Linked DNA regions of Homo sapiens. The protein of the gene in region 2 interacts with the protein of the main gene of each other region in a pairwise test. Each region holds a gene or a part of one and is shown on either strand. Other genes may lie near its edges.

Region 1 (7,026 bases), on a different chromosome or scaffold from region 2:
GGCTGGGCACTGAGGCCCCTCCACTGCCCCCCACTGCAGAATTTCATCAACCGGAACCTGGAGGCCAAAGAGGAGAGAATCAACAAACTGCACAGCGAGGGCGACCAGCTGCTGGCGGCCGAGCACCCCGGGAGGAACTCCATTGAGGTTCATGCACCCCGAGACCAGACACCTCCCCCAGGGTGGCTTCTGGTTGGCCGCTGCCTGTGGGCCGCCTGGAGCTCGGGCAGACCCCGGAGCTGGGGGTCCTGCAAGCTGCATCTTGTGTCTGTCTGTCTCTTTCTTGCTGTGTCTGACTCTGCCTCCTCCATTTATCCTGATCCGTTGACACTTCTGCCCTCAGCCCCTGGACTTCTGAAGCCCCTGTGGGGTCTGTATTAGTTTCCTAGAGTTGCTGCAACAAGTTAAAACAAACTTAGTGGCTTTAAACAACAGAAATTCATTCTCTCAGAGGTCTGTGGGCTGTAAGTCTGAAATCAAGGTGTCTTAGGGCCTCATTCCCTCTGGAAGCTCCAGGACATGTGCCTTCCTTGCTCTTCCGGCTTCTGGGGGTTGCCAACAGCCCTTGGCTTGTGGCTGCATCATTCCAGTCCCTTCCTCCGTCTTCACATGGCCTTCTCTCCCCATGTCTCTCTGTATCCTCTCTTCTTATAAGGATATCAGTCAGTGGATTTAGGGCTCACCCTAATTTCAGGATCCTTAACTAATGACATCTGCAAAGATCTTATTCCCAAATAAGGTCGCATTCTTCCCAACCCCCACAATGCCACCAACCCCGCCTGAGATGGAGTTTCGCTGTTGTTGCCCAGGCTGGAGTGCGATGGTGTAATCTTGGCTCACTGCAACCTCCACCTCCCGGGTTCAAGCAATTCTCCTGCCTCAGCCTCCCAAGTAGCTGGGACTACAGGCGCACACCATCATGCCCAGCTAATTTTTGTATTTTTAGTAGAGACAGGGTCTCATCATGTGGGCCAGGCTAGTCTCAAACTCCTGACCTCAGGTGATCCACCCGCCTCGGCCTCCCAAAGTGCTGCGATTACAGGTGTGAGCCACCATGCCTGGCCAGGGTCATGGATTTGGTGGGACACTGTTCGGTCCATGACAGTGCCTTTGTACAGATTTGCCGAAGGCACCACAGCCCCCACTTGCCCTTTGTGCACTGCACAGCCTGGGCATCCGTATGTGGCATCCCTGTTTGGCTCCTTGACGTGACCCCTCTCTCCTCCTCCCACTCCTGAGCAGAAGCTGGCTACCCCTGTGGTAGCCACACCCAGACAGATGCCAGATGCCTCCCTCCCCCGCCATGCCCCAGCCCAATATCCCAGCAGTCCCTCCCTTGGTGTCTGCAGTACCTGCCCAGTGGTGACCGGCCCCTTCTCTTCCTGGCAGGCGCACATGGAGGCTGTGCACGCAGACTGGAAGGAGTACCTGAACCTGCTCATCTGCGAGGAGAGCCACCTCAAGTACATGGAGGACTACCACCAGGTACTTACCTTTCCTGGGAGTCCCCCCAGCACCGGGGGTGCTACTCTCTGAGAGCGCTCAGTGCCTACCTGGCTCATGTGTGGCCTCGTGCTCCTTGGTCCAGGAGCCTTGCGGGGCAGCCATCCCAGGCCCCCAGCACCCATGCTTCTGATGGCGTGTGCAGACATGTCCCAAGCTTGCCGGCCCCTGTCCAACTTCCCTGGGGACCAGGGCCAGAGTCTGATTCCCCAGGTCACATGGGGCCCAGGGTGAGTGTGTAGGGTTTTAATTTTGGTAAAATCTATAATATACATGCAGATACATAAAACAAAATTTGCCTTTTTTTTTTTTTTTTTTTTTTTTGAGAGAGTCTTGCCCTGTCACCCAGGCTGGAGTGCAGTCGTGCCATCTCGGCTCACTACAACCTCCACCTCCTGGGTTCAAGTGATTCTCCTGCCTCAGCCTCCTGAACAGCTGGGATTACAAGTGCCCACCACCACACCCAGCTAATTTTTGTATTTTCAGTAAAGATGGGGTTTCGCCATGTTGGTCAGGCTGGTCTCGAACTCCTGACCTCAGGTGATCCTCCCGCCTCGGCCTCCTAAAGTGTTGGGATTACAGGTGTGAGCCACCACACCCGGCCAGTTTGCATTTTTAAGTGTACAATTCAGTGGCATTCATTGCATTCGCAATGTTATGCAACCATCACCACCATCTACTTGCAAAACTTTCCATCACCCCAAACAGAAACCCTATACCCTGGCTGGGCACGGTAGCTCATGTCTGTAATTCCAGCACTCTGGGAAGCCGAGGCGACTGGATCACCTGAGGTCAGGAGTTCAAGACCAGCCTGGCCAACATGATGAAACCCCATCTCTACTAAAATACAAAAGTTAGCCAGGTGTGGTGGCCCATATCTGTAGTCCCAGATGGGAGGCTGAGGCAGGAGAACTGCTTGAACCCAGGAGGCAGAGGTTGCAGTGAGCTGAGATCGCGCCATTGCACTCCAGCCTGGGCGACAGAGTGAGTCTCCGCCTCAAAAAAAAAAAAAAAAAACAACCCCGTACTCATTAGGCAGTAAGTTTTCCATTCCCACTCCCCCAGCCCCAGGTCACCTTTGGTCTTCTTGCTGTCTCTATGGACTTGCCTGTTCCAGAAGTGTCACACCTAGAACGAATATGAAGAATCAGTGGGATCATGCAATCTCTGCCCTTTTGTGTCTGGCTTCTCTCACTGAGCATCATGTTTTCCGGGTTCATCCGTGTTGTAGCATTTTCAGTGCTTCACCCCTTTTTATGGCTGAATCATATCCTATTGTATGGCTAGACCACTGTGTTTATCCACTCATCTGTGGCTGGACACTTGTCTGTTTCCAGAGGAATGAGAGTTCTTAAGAAGCTGCGGGTAATTCTTAGGATTGAGGTGTCTGGGGAAAGCTGGATGTGGGCGACGCCGTGTCACTCCTCATTCCCTGTCTGAGCCGCACAGTGGGGGCTTCAGGTCCTGTTTATGGCTGCAGCCCAGGTGCTCAGCCCAGGGGATAGCTGACAGTGAACCAAGAGTTGATAGACTGAAGAATGGGCAAGAGAATTTTCGAGAACAAAAAGGGGAGGCTATTATCAAAACCTAGAAAGAAGCTATAGTATTAAGTCTGGATGTTCCTAGTACAGAGAGAGGAACTGAATCAAAGACACCTCAAGACTTACTGATACATCCAAGAAAACATGTCACAGAGGTGGCATCTCATGGATGGGTGGGAAGGGACCTGGCTTTTCCCAGTGAGGCCCCTAAGGAGCCAGCTCAGGGAGGGTGGGGCTGTCTCCACGCAGAGGAGCCTCAGGCTCAGCACAGGGTCCCATGCTGGACTCCAGGTGAACCGGAGGCCCAGCCCCGCCTGAGGGATGAGCTTGAAGCCTCCGACAGAAGCCCAGGTGCTTCTAGTGGTTTCCTGGCTGTAACAGAGCCACCTTCTCCCCTAGTTTCACGAAGACGTGAAGGACGCTCAGGAGCTGCTGCGCAAGGTGGACTCGGACCTGAACCAGAAGTATGGCCCTGACTTCAAGGACCGGTACCAGATTGAGCTGCTGCTGCGGGAGCTGGATGTGAGCGATGGCCCAGGACCCCTGCTGGCCCGGGGGGCGGGGGACCCCTCTACACCATGCCTGCCCTCAGCCCTGTACAGGCCCCTCCACAGCACCCCACCTGCTGAATCCAGCCCCTGCTCTGCGTCCTCCCACCAGGGGGAAGGCTGTTGGTCTCACCTGGGCCCCTGACCCCGTTCTCTCCAGGACCAGGAGAAGGTGCTGGACAAGTATGAGGACGTGGTGCAGGGGCTGCAGAAGCGAGGCCAGCAGGTGGTGCCCCTCAAGTACCGCCGGGAGACTCCGCTCAAGCCCATCCCCGTGGAGGCACTCTGTGACTTTGAGGGGGAGCAGGTGCGTGGGGCCAGCTCCTCTGTTCACATCACTACAAAGTTTTTGGGGTAACATGGTTGGATCCCGGGCCTCAGGCGCCGTTCTCAGGAGCCTGTGCCTGTCTCCGTGGTTGGTGTCACTCTGCCAACCCTTCCCCTGGTGCAGGCCAACTGGCACCCCTATGCCGCCCCCACCTCGGCTGCCCTGGCCTTGTGTTCCACCAGCTTAGCAACCCCAGTCCCTCCTCAGAAGTCCCAGGCCAGGTTCTCATTGGCTCACTGTGAGTCACGTGTCCATCCTACACCAATCACTGTGGCCAGGGAATGCCAGGGTCCACCCTATACCAATGACTGTGGCTGGCGAATGCCAGTCATTGGCCAGGTCCAAGTCACATGTCCATCTGGAGCTTGGGAATGGAGAAGGAGAGACCACAGGGACTGGGAATTGGGAGGGAAGGTTCCCCAAAGGGAAATGGAGGTGGGTTGCTGGGCCGGCAGCCTCAACACATGTGCTTCTCCTGCATGCCCCTCCCCACTCTACGGGGAGGGTCCAAGTGATGAGCCGGGGCTCCCCAGGTCCAAGAGTCGGGGGCTGAGATGGCAACCGGGCTCCCAGGCCCTCAGGCCCTGCCGGGATCCTGACTGTCCAGCCTGCCCCCGCCAGGGCCTGATCTCGCGGGGCTACAGCTACACCCTGCAGAAGAACAACGGGGAGAGCTGGGAGCTCATGGACAGCGCTGGGAACAAGCTGATTGCTCCGGCCGTGTGTTTTGTGATCCCCCCCACAGACCCTGAGGCCCTGGCTCTGGCTGACAGGTACAAGGGCAAAGGCGGGAGTCTGCATGGACCAGTCCCACCCCCAGGGCTTCTCAGGCCCCATTCATAGCCCCGGGGATTTGGACTCAGCCTGTGGGGAGCGCGGGGTCGCTGACACTCTCCATCTGCACCCCCTTGGAAGTTCATGCAGGAGAGGGGCAGATTGTGGGCCAGCTGACTTGCTAAACATGAATGTCTAGCTCTGGGCTTCGTCCTGGCCCCCTCACGAGTTTCTAAGCAGTTTCTAAGGGCCCCTGACTCCCGCACGCACTGCTCCCTGTACTTGCAGACCCCAGCCCCTTGGCTGGAGGACTCAGCTGGGATAAGGGCTGCCTCCTCTTTGCTCCCAGGCACCTTCTTCCACTGCACGCACCGCTTTTTATTAAGTGACTAGCGTATGCGTCAGTCTCATTGGGCCTGGGCTCCTTGAATTTCCTCTCTCCAGGGCCTAGTTAAGTACCTGGTACAAAGTAGGTGCCCAGGAACTCCTTGCTGAATGAGTGGATCATTCAAGGAATGCCTTCATTTATTAAGTATTTATTGAGCACCTACTGTGTATGCTCCCTCAGAAGTAACATCTTGGTGGTGATTATTGGACAGACAATTTTAGGTAGTGAGACTTCCTACGAAAGAGGAGGGAAGGAGGGAGAAGAGCTCTGAGCCCAGGAGCACAGAAAGGCCAGTGCCACAGTGAGCACTTGCTGTCCGCATCTAAGGAGCTGTCAGGCTCCTCTGGGGTGTCTGCCCAGCCAGAGTCCGCAGTCCCGCCTCTGTGGGTGCAGGGGGTGGTGGGCTGCCCAGGTTCCCAGCTCATTTCTGTCCTCACAGCCTGGGCAGCCAGTACCGGAGCGTGCGGCAGAAGGCAGCTGGGAGCAAACGCACGCTGCAGCAGCGGTATGAGGTGCTGAAGACCGAGAATCCCGGAGGTGGGTGCCAGGGCCACTCGCCTGAGGCTCTGGGGGTACCGGGGAGGAGGGGCTGGACCAGGGTCTGTGCTGTGGATGAGACGGCGGGGGGCTGGCTGCCTAGGTCCATCCCTGGGCCTCACACCCCTGGCCCGTTGTCACACCTGCCTGTGTCCTCCCTCCCTCCACAGATGCCTCTGACCTACAGGGGCGGCAGCTGCTGGCTGGCTTGGACAAGGTGGCCAGCGACCTGGACCGGCAGGAGAAGGCCATCACAGGGATCCTGCGGCCACCACTGGAGCAAGGCCGGGCTGTGCAGGACAGTGCCGAGCGGGCCAAGGACCTCAAGGTACCTGCGGGTCAGGAGCACAGGTGGGGCCGGGGGAGCCCTGCACTGGCCCCCTGGGGCCCCTATTTGAGGTCTTTTCCCCATGGAGTCTTGGGATATTCACTGCAGCTGTCTGTCAGGGACAGCCTGCTGCATGTAAAAGGGTCCCAAGTCATGGAGGTGGCAGGGCTGCTGTCATTACCTCCCCAGGAGAAAGAGCTGGCAGGACTTGCATTGTTCCTGCACGGCTTGTCGATCTGACGCCTGGCATGGCACATGGGCTGTGGAATTCCGCAGGACTGGGTCACCGGCTGGCTTGACTGCAAACACGTTAGCGTTTGTATTTATAAACTCCAGGCCTCAGTGTCTTCAGTAGGATGGGTTGGCCCTGCTCACAGGGCAGTGGCGAGGACAGGGTGAGCTGATGCCAGGGGGGACGTGGAGGGGCCACCTCCCCCCACCTCCTTTCCTATACAAAGTCTCCCACATCCTCAAGGCAGCCCTCTGAGGCAGTGAGTAGCACTCCAATTTTACAGAAGAGGATCTGGGATTGGAGAAGTGCCATAGCCCCTGATGGGGCCTCAGAGTGAGAGCCAAGTCAGGGCGAGAGGATGCCGGTCTCGGGTGTAGCCTGACCCCACAAGTCCCTTCCTAAGCTGCTGGGAGTCGTCACACCCCCACCCGTGACTGGGTGGAGTCGTAGTACTCACCTCCCGGGGTTGCCGCAAAGATTAAACAGAAGCGTCCGCGTGCAGTGCTGAGGACAGCACAGGCCCGGCAGCTGCCTGGGTGCTTCTGGTGTCACTAGTCCATTCCACCTCAGCGGTTCCCTGGGATGCTCGTGAAAAATACAGCCCTCAGGCTGGGGTCCAGATGCCGGGTCAGAGCCCCAGAATGTGCCAGGCCTCTCCAGCTGCTTCCACTGTGCCTGATGTGGGAATCTGTGCTCACCCTGGGCACATCCTCAGGGGAAGGGGCTGCCTGGCTGTGTCCAAAACTGAGGGGCCCTGGTTCCCACAGAACATCACCAACGAGCTACTGCGGATTGAACCTGAGAAGACGCGGAGCACGGCTGAGGGCGAAGCCTTCATCCAGGCCCT
Region 2 (7,026 bases):
GAGCCCTCTCTTTGAGCTACTTCTTATTCTGGGTTCCAGTAACTGCCTCCCCTCCCTAGCCGTCCCAGTGTAGGAGTGGAGACAGCTCCCCACTGTTGGGAACCATGGGGGCACTGCACTTTTCCTTGTTGCTTTCCCTTAACCCTCCTTTCTGCAAACCTTCAACCACGCAGTTTGAACTCATCATCTCCTTCTTAAGGTTTTTGACCAATGGATATTTATTATTCCTTCAGTCTTCACCTCAACCCCCACAAACACAGATTGAAATCATCACCTAAATATGTGGAGGCCAAAGCTCAGAAGCATTAAGTTTTTTTGAGAAGGCACTGACAGTAGGTGGCATGAGAAGTCTGGGAAGGACTAAGTTCTTTGGGCAGGCATCGCCTCCTTTCCTTGGCATTTCCATCCTCACTCTCCCTGCAGTATTACTCAGTGTGTGTCTCCTTCCCCTCAGATCCACCCTTTATATGTCTTCCTTCCCAGGAAGGTCTGAGGAAGTGCAAGAGATCTATTCGCCCTGGTTCCCTGGGCTCTCAGCAGAAAGGGTCTTGGAGATGGGCCCACTTTTCAGATTGGAATTTAATGTTGCCTACCCCAAATTCTCCTAGTCATGGGAGCTTTTCTTCCCCAAATCACAACAGTTGGAGAAGTAAAAAGGAAAAAGGAATATAGTCCCTCAGGTTGTTGGTCCAGGGAACACACAGTGATTTACTCACCAGGCTTGAAGAGGGCCTTTTTCCATTCTGAAAGGAAGGAGACACAGATAAGGAAAAGGTCAGTATTCTTGTACTTTTCCCCACTGCACTCTCCCCTCACTACATGTTTTCTCTCCTTTTCTTCAGAGTCTCTTCCAGGGTCCAGCCTCCCTCTTCTACAGCTCTGATGGATCAGGGGTGGTACCTTCTCAAAAATGGTGAGCTCTGTTCCCTCTGCAATGAAGGGTACAGGCTGCAAGGCCAGGCTTTGCAAGGGGGTGTGCAGGGTCAGGAGTCTCTCTGATTCTCCAGAAAAGCAGAAATCAACCCCCCACAACACACAAATTGAGTCTTTGGGTTAAATCTGATTCATGCAAATGAGAACATCAATGGGTCACAGCAGAGAAAAGGTTGAAATGTTCATGGCACGTGTCCCAGCAAACTCAGAGAGCATCAGGTTCACTCACCATTATAGGCTGAATGTCTCTCTCCCCCTACAATGAAAAAAAGATAGAGATGTCACCTGAACTTGCCATTTTTGATTTGGCCCCATTCCCTTAACTTTACATCCATCTAATCTTTTTTTTTTTTTTTTTTTTTTTACCACCTGTATCTTCCTCCTCTGCAGGTTCAATTCTTTCTATTGTGTTGTTCTTAGTATCAAATCCAGGAACATCAGTCGAATGCTAGTGACATGGCAGACATTGCGAGAGTTCCTTCCTGATGGTGTTCAGCTGATCTATTTGGAATGTATCTATATACCTGTACCTGGGCATAGGTGTCTCCATGTCTATATGCACATATATATATACACATATATATATACATATATATGCACATATATATGTGTATATATGTATATATGTGTATATATATATTTAAATGTGTGTATGTGTGTGTGTGTGTTTGCAAGATCCTTCTATATCAATCTAATTTCGTACCTTACTCTGAAAAGAATTTGGGAAATTTAATGAGCAATTTCAGGGACTAGTGTTTGAAGTCAGTTAGAATAAATTGGTACCAACTGAGCGACTGTTCAGGCCACTTTTGTTTATTAGACACACTTTTCTCCCTCTCTCTTTTCAGATTTTCTTGTTCTTTATTATCTTTTATTCTTTTTCTTCTCTGGAGCCTATAGATTATGTAAAATGACTAGTGAAGTTCCTGCCATAGAGAATGCACTTCATCTACCTCTTCCCCCTTCCTTTACAAATGTGCCCCTGGATATTCCTCAGTGCTTTGCAGGGCTATAGAGTCTGTGGCCCCTGGTAGAGATAAATTGAAGGCATCTTTTCTTCGAGACCAGCTGAGAAAGAGAAAGAGAGGGAGAAAGAAACACTCCTCCTGGGTGTTACTCCAATCAGCCACACTCTTTCTTTTTTCCTTTCTTCTCTTTCCTTTTTTTTTTTTTCTTTTTGGCAATGACTAGGAATTGGCACATCTATTTTCTTTCCTTAGTCAAAGGGATCTAAGACCACTTCCCAACCTTGGGGAAAGAGTTAAGAGTGGAAACTATTCAAGCACAGACAGTTATAGATTCAAATTCAGAGAAAATGTCAGAGGCACTTACGAGATGCATACTGGATACTTCTCCATCCTGCAACGGAAGGAACAGGGGAAGATGCATCAAGGCGCATAAAGCAGGGACAGGAAGACATGCCTGGGTCTCTGGGGGAATGGGAACTTACTGAGTTCCTCCAGGAGCTTCACTGGAAAATAAGCAGAAATAATAATGAACTGTTACAGGTGAGGGGGTTTTCTAAAAAATTAACCTTAAAAGCAACTGAGCTCTGCGGTGGGGATGGGCGTGAGGTCTTTGGGCTTTGGCCCGTAAGCCAGGGGCTCAGATAAACTCCCAAGGTCAGCTACCTCTTGTGCTTTGTTCTTGCTTCATTGTGCTCCATGCCATTTCTCTCAACTCTTGCTCTCTCTTTTTCTTTCTGAACTGAGTCTTTTTTTCCTCCTGCTGTTGCCACAGGAAGTAACCGGCTCCCCCAAGAAGCAGCAGCAAGACAGGCAGGGTCCCTGCCAGGGCGGCGATCCACCTCTGGGCGCTCCTGAAGAAGGGGTCTGTGAAGGCAACGGCTGTGGGTCATGGGGGCCGGTGCACTCAGCCTCCCCAGACTGCAGCGCCCCAAGTGTTAGCTGCTCACCCCAGGTCACAGGGCACGGAATCTATCTCATGAGGTTAAATAATCTTTCTCATGCTAAAATCTCAGAGGACAGTGGGTAAGACTTTGATAAACCCCCACTAGAGGCTGCTACTATTACTTCTCTTGAGACGTCTGCCTCTCATGTGGAAAGTGAGTGACTTGAGGATATCAAACATATTTTTTTCTAATTCAACTTTTTAATAGGTAACACATGTACATGGTTCTAAAATACATGTATAAAAAGTCACGTAAGTCTCCCATCCACCCAGTCCTCCCTCCCACCCTCCCTTTCTTAACTTCAAATTAGTCTGCTTAATATGATGCTTAAGAACAGGAACTTTGGAGCTGGAGGCCCTGGGTGTCAATGCTGGCTCCTTTAGGTGACTTGCAGTGTGACTTTAGACTAATTACTTAACCTCTCTGTTCCTACTGCCCTTCTCCTGAAGTTAGAAGGATTAAATTAATACTTATAAAGTGCCTGACACCTAGTGAGTGTTATGACATTACTTGTTAACTTAAAAAAATGTAAATAAAAATATATTCTTGTTTTTCCTCTTATTTGCACTAAAGATAGCATTCCATACACACCACTCTGCATTTTGCTCTTTCTGTGCAAAGTTAATCTTGGAGGTTTTTCCACTTCACTATAGAGAGAATTATCTCTTTTTTCTTTCACAGTTGAGTGGTATCCATTGCATGAAAGTTCTCCAGCAGTGAACATCTGCATAGTTTCCAACCTTGTGCAGTCATAATCAGTGCTATAAAAAATAACTTTTTACATGGATCATCTCATACAAATGCAAGCTTATCTACCAAATAAATTCCCAGAAGCGGAATTTTGGATCACTAAAGATGTAGTTTGGATAGATATTGTTATATAGCCCCCAACAGAGGTTGTGCTAATGCACACCAAAAATACAAGTCATCCCAGCAGATGCCTAGGAGTCACAGCCTTCCTACATTCCTGCCATAACCATGTGTTATCAACCAACAGATGTTTGTTTTGATTTTTGCCAATACCATAAGTGAAAAATGATTCAGTATGTTTCTCTAATGAATGAGAACGAACACTCTTTTGTGAGTTATTTCCTTTTCTGTAAATTAAATAATTTATGACCTTTGTTAAAATTTTTTACTCAGTTTTTAAAATCTTCTGTCTCAAGGAGATTGGCTCTTTCTCTATGAGTTTGTATATATATATATATGCTTTCCCCTTTTGTCATTTGACTTTACATACGCAGCTTATCTTAACAATTATCCCCTAATTCCAATTACTGTTATACTTCTGGCAGACAGGAAATGTTCAGTAAATGTTTGCGTCATGAACAGCTTTATGGAGAAGAGAAGCTCCCCCGGTGCAAGGAGGAGCCTCCAGGTCTGTGCTTTGGGCCTTATATTCAGTGCAGAGACCCAGGTTGACTGCAGACACTAACACCTCCCCCTTCATTCAACTGCCACAGCCCAGCTCAGAAAACCTGAGGCCAAGCAGGTACTGACCTGCGATGGAAATGCTGGCTGTCTTTTCCAGGCCGAGGAGGGAACTTCTGATGGTACAGGATACACCCTCCCCAGAGCTGCCTCTCATGATCACAGATGCTGCTACTGCATACAGGCCCACTCCGTCTGCAACCACAGGTGCTTCCACAGTCGGGATGTTCTCTCCCTTGTTGTTGCTCCACTGTATTTGGGGTTGGGGGTACCAGCCAGTGGACCTGCACTCCAGATGGATCCCTCCATCCTTGTAACCCTTCACATCAACGTGAAGATCAGAACCCAGTGCTGTGGAAGGATGAATTAGCCTAAATTCTTGAGAGGCCTGTATCAGAGAGGGTCTCAAAAGGAATCATGGCACACTCACATTCCATAATTCAAGAACAATTTCATTTTAGAGCTGCTTACAAAAGTGTGGTCCTAGTGAGGAGAAAGCTACATGAATGAGTGCAGTATCCCAGGGTCAGTAACAGTGGGGCTATTCCCACCCACCACAGTTACCAGAGGGAGGAGGAGAGGGAGCTGTTTTGAAGACACAAAAGAAGAGATTTATGCATTAAGGACTTTCTTGAGAGGGGCAATGACCTTCAGCAAGGCAATGCAGCCAGCCTGAGGGTAACTTGCAGGAAGGAAGCCAGGGACTAAGCACCCAGATCTCTCTTTTCTCTCCCTCCCTTCATCGTCTGCTACAGATCCCTGCTGACCAAACCCTTAAACAGAAGCCACAGGGAAAAGCATTGCACTAAGAAAGAAAAGAGCAGTCCCTTTATCTGGAAGCAGCAACAGGACTCAGTGTCCTCCTGTTGAACAAAAGCAATTTCACAGAACACCAGCATCAGATGATGGCACTTTGTGACTATGATGGATCATGGGAAAAACAAGACCACCCCACATCATGTGTGAGCACAGAGAAAAACATGAACATTGTCCAAACCACAGCAGTGACCAAACAACCCCCATCAGCAATGAGGGATTGCTGTCCCTTCATCAATTACAGCTTTAGTCTCACCCTGGTCTCTTTCTTCCTAGATAAGATTGATTAAGGTTCTCACTCATAGAATTAACCTGCCCACACCTTCCTAGCAGTGTCTCATCCAGAGCAGAGGCCAAAGTCTATAAACCCTCCTCCCAAATCCCCTAACACAAGCCCAAATTATATACTAAGTCTGCTCTAACAGCTTCTTACTGAGACTCCACCACAGCTCCCCATGATATGTGTTCTTCCTCACTGCAACAAGTAAGAAACACAGCTCCCATGACTACAGGTGTATTCTAGGGTCATTGGCTCAAGAACATTGGCAGCAGATACAGTCCAGATAGCCCAGTCTTCTAGGGCCCACAATAGCATGTACCTAGTGGAGCCACAGAAGCCATCCAGTACAGAACTAAACACGAATGACTGTGTACTAGTCACTGAAGAGATGATTTCTTATGCTTTCTATCCCTTGTCCTTCACTTCCCTTATATCTCTGGTGGCCAGAGGAAAGGAGTTCTTTACTTGAGCATGTAGGGTACAGCAGGAATTCTTCCTAAAGGAAAACCTGTGTCTTACTCAAGGGCCTCAGAGAAGCTAAGTTGGGAGGCAGTGCAGGCAATTGCTAGTGAGCAGCCAGGAGTGTCTGCAGTGCTTTTGCAAGAGGGACTCTGCATCTGCTCTAGATCCTACAGAGAAATGTTCTCAGAACAAAACCTGGAGGCTCACCTGCAACCTTCAGCTCCACCAGGGCTTTTTCATAGAAGTCACCATCTTGGAAATAACACAAGTACTTTCCACTGTCAGAGGCTGTGACGTTGTGTATTCGGAGAGCAGCCTTCCCTGCAGTGATGCCATCCCGCAGAATCGAAGTTCTCCCTCGATACGGTGCACTCTGCCTGTCTTCCACTTCCTTTCCATCTGCATACACGTTCACCACCTGCCTTAGGCTGGAACTCACCCACTTCAGCTCCATGGTCTCTGCACTCATGGTCGGGAACAGGTGACAGGGCAGATCAGCGTCTTCACCCACCATGGCCAGGATGGGCCCAGAGGGTCCAAGCACAGAAAACTGAGCTGTAGGCACAAGGGGGAGGATCTGTCAGAGGGTTTTGGAGTTGGGGTCATGAGAGGAAGGGTGCTTCTCAGACAGGGAAGGCGAGATACAAAGAAACTGGTGGGGGAAACTGATCTTAACAGAAGCACCATTTGTCTCTTAGTGACGGGTGAACCTTCAGATCGGGATGGACTTCAGGTTTGGGAAGGAGTCAAAAGTCCTATGAGGACATAATTAGGTAATTGTCTGCTTCAGAAACAAGCGTGGAATTGTTCCCTACCTGAGTGAGGCATGAGCAGCTGAAGCAAAAGGAGGCAGACACGAAAGTTGAGCAGAAGGAAGGCCAGGAAACTTGCCATTTTCATTCATGCTGCATATCAGGAGATACTGGAAGGTGGGGGGCAGACACTATGACCTGGAAGAAGCTATAGAATTCCAAATGGAAACCTCCACTTCCCTAGAGCTAACTCAAGTATGGTGACCGAAGAAGATCTTTCCTCTGCCAAAAATTCTGTCCTTCAGTGTCTTCACCTTTGAGTCCCAACATTGAAAATCACCTGTAAAAACATGTCTATGTGAAATGCACATCTGTTATTCGATCAGAAAATCCTCACTGTACTGTTTAACAATATTCAGAATCCTATGACTTCCCCAAAC

Evidence for each region. Proteins that work in one complex are often made in the same cells at the same time.
Region 1: the proteins of BTN3A1 (region 2) and PPL interact in binary tests that used the Homo sapiens proteins (3 or more experiments, as listed by UniProt).

Annotation. Positions count from the first base shown.
Region 1 is NC_000016.10:4,892,134-4,899,159, reverse strand, and holds part of PPL (periplakin), read left to right. Parts: intron 1-39; coding exon 40-147; intron 148-1,389; coding exon 1,390-1,485; intron 1,486-2,579; exon of another isoform or gene 2,580-3,443; coding exon 3,444-3,566; intron 3,567-3,725; exon of another isoform or gene 3,726-3,752; coding exon 3,753-3,899; intron 3,900-4,493; coding exon of another isoform or gene 4,494-4,541; coding exon 4,542-4,693; intron 4,694-5,521; coding exon 5,522-5,619; intron 5,620-5,789; coding exon 5,790-5,947; intron 5,948-6,946; coding exon 6,947-7,026. UniProt on the Homo sapiens protein: Component of the cornified envelope of keratinocytes. May link the cornified envelope to desmosomes and intermediate filaments. May act as a localization signal in PKB/AKT-mediated signaling.
Region 2 is NC_000006.12:26,405,272-26,412,297, reverse strand, and holds part of BTN3A1 (butyrophilin subfamily 3 member A1 isoform a precursor), read right to left. Parts: exon of another isoform or gene 6,927-7,026; 5' UTR 6,735-6,926; coding exon 6,650-6,734; intron 6,390-6,649; coding exon 6,042-6,389; intron 6,036-6,041; exon of another isoform or gene 4,628-6,035; coding exon 4,346-4,627; exon of another isoform or gene 3,576-4,345; coding exon of another isoform or gene 3,437-3,575; intron 2,766-3,436; coding exon 2,565-2,765; intron 2,405-2,564; coding exon 2,384-2,404; intron 2,293-2,383; coding exon 2,266-2,292; intron 1,190-2,265; coding exon 1,163-1,189; intron 744-1,162; coding exon 717-743; intron 1-716. UniProt on the Homo sapiens protein: Plays a role in T-cell activation and in the adaptive immune response. Regulates the proliferation of activated T-cells. Regulates the release of cytokines and IFNG by activated T-cells.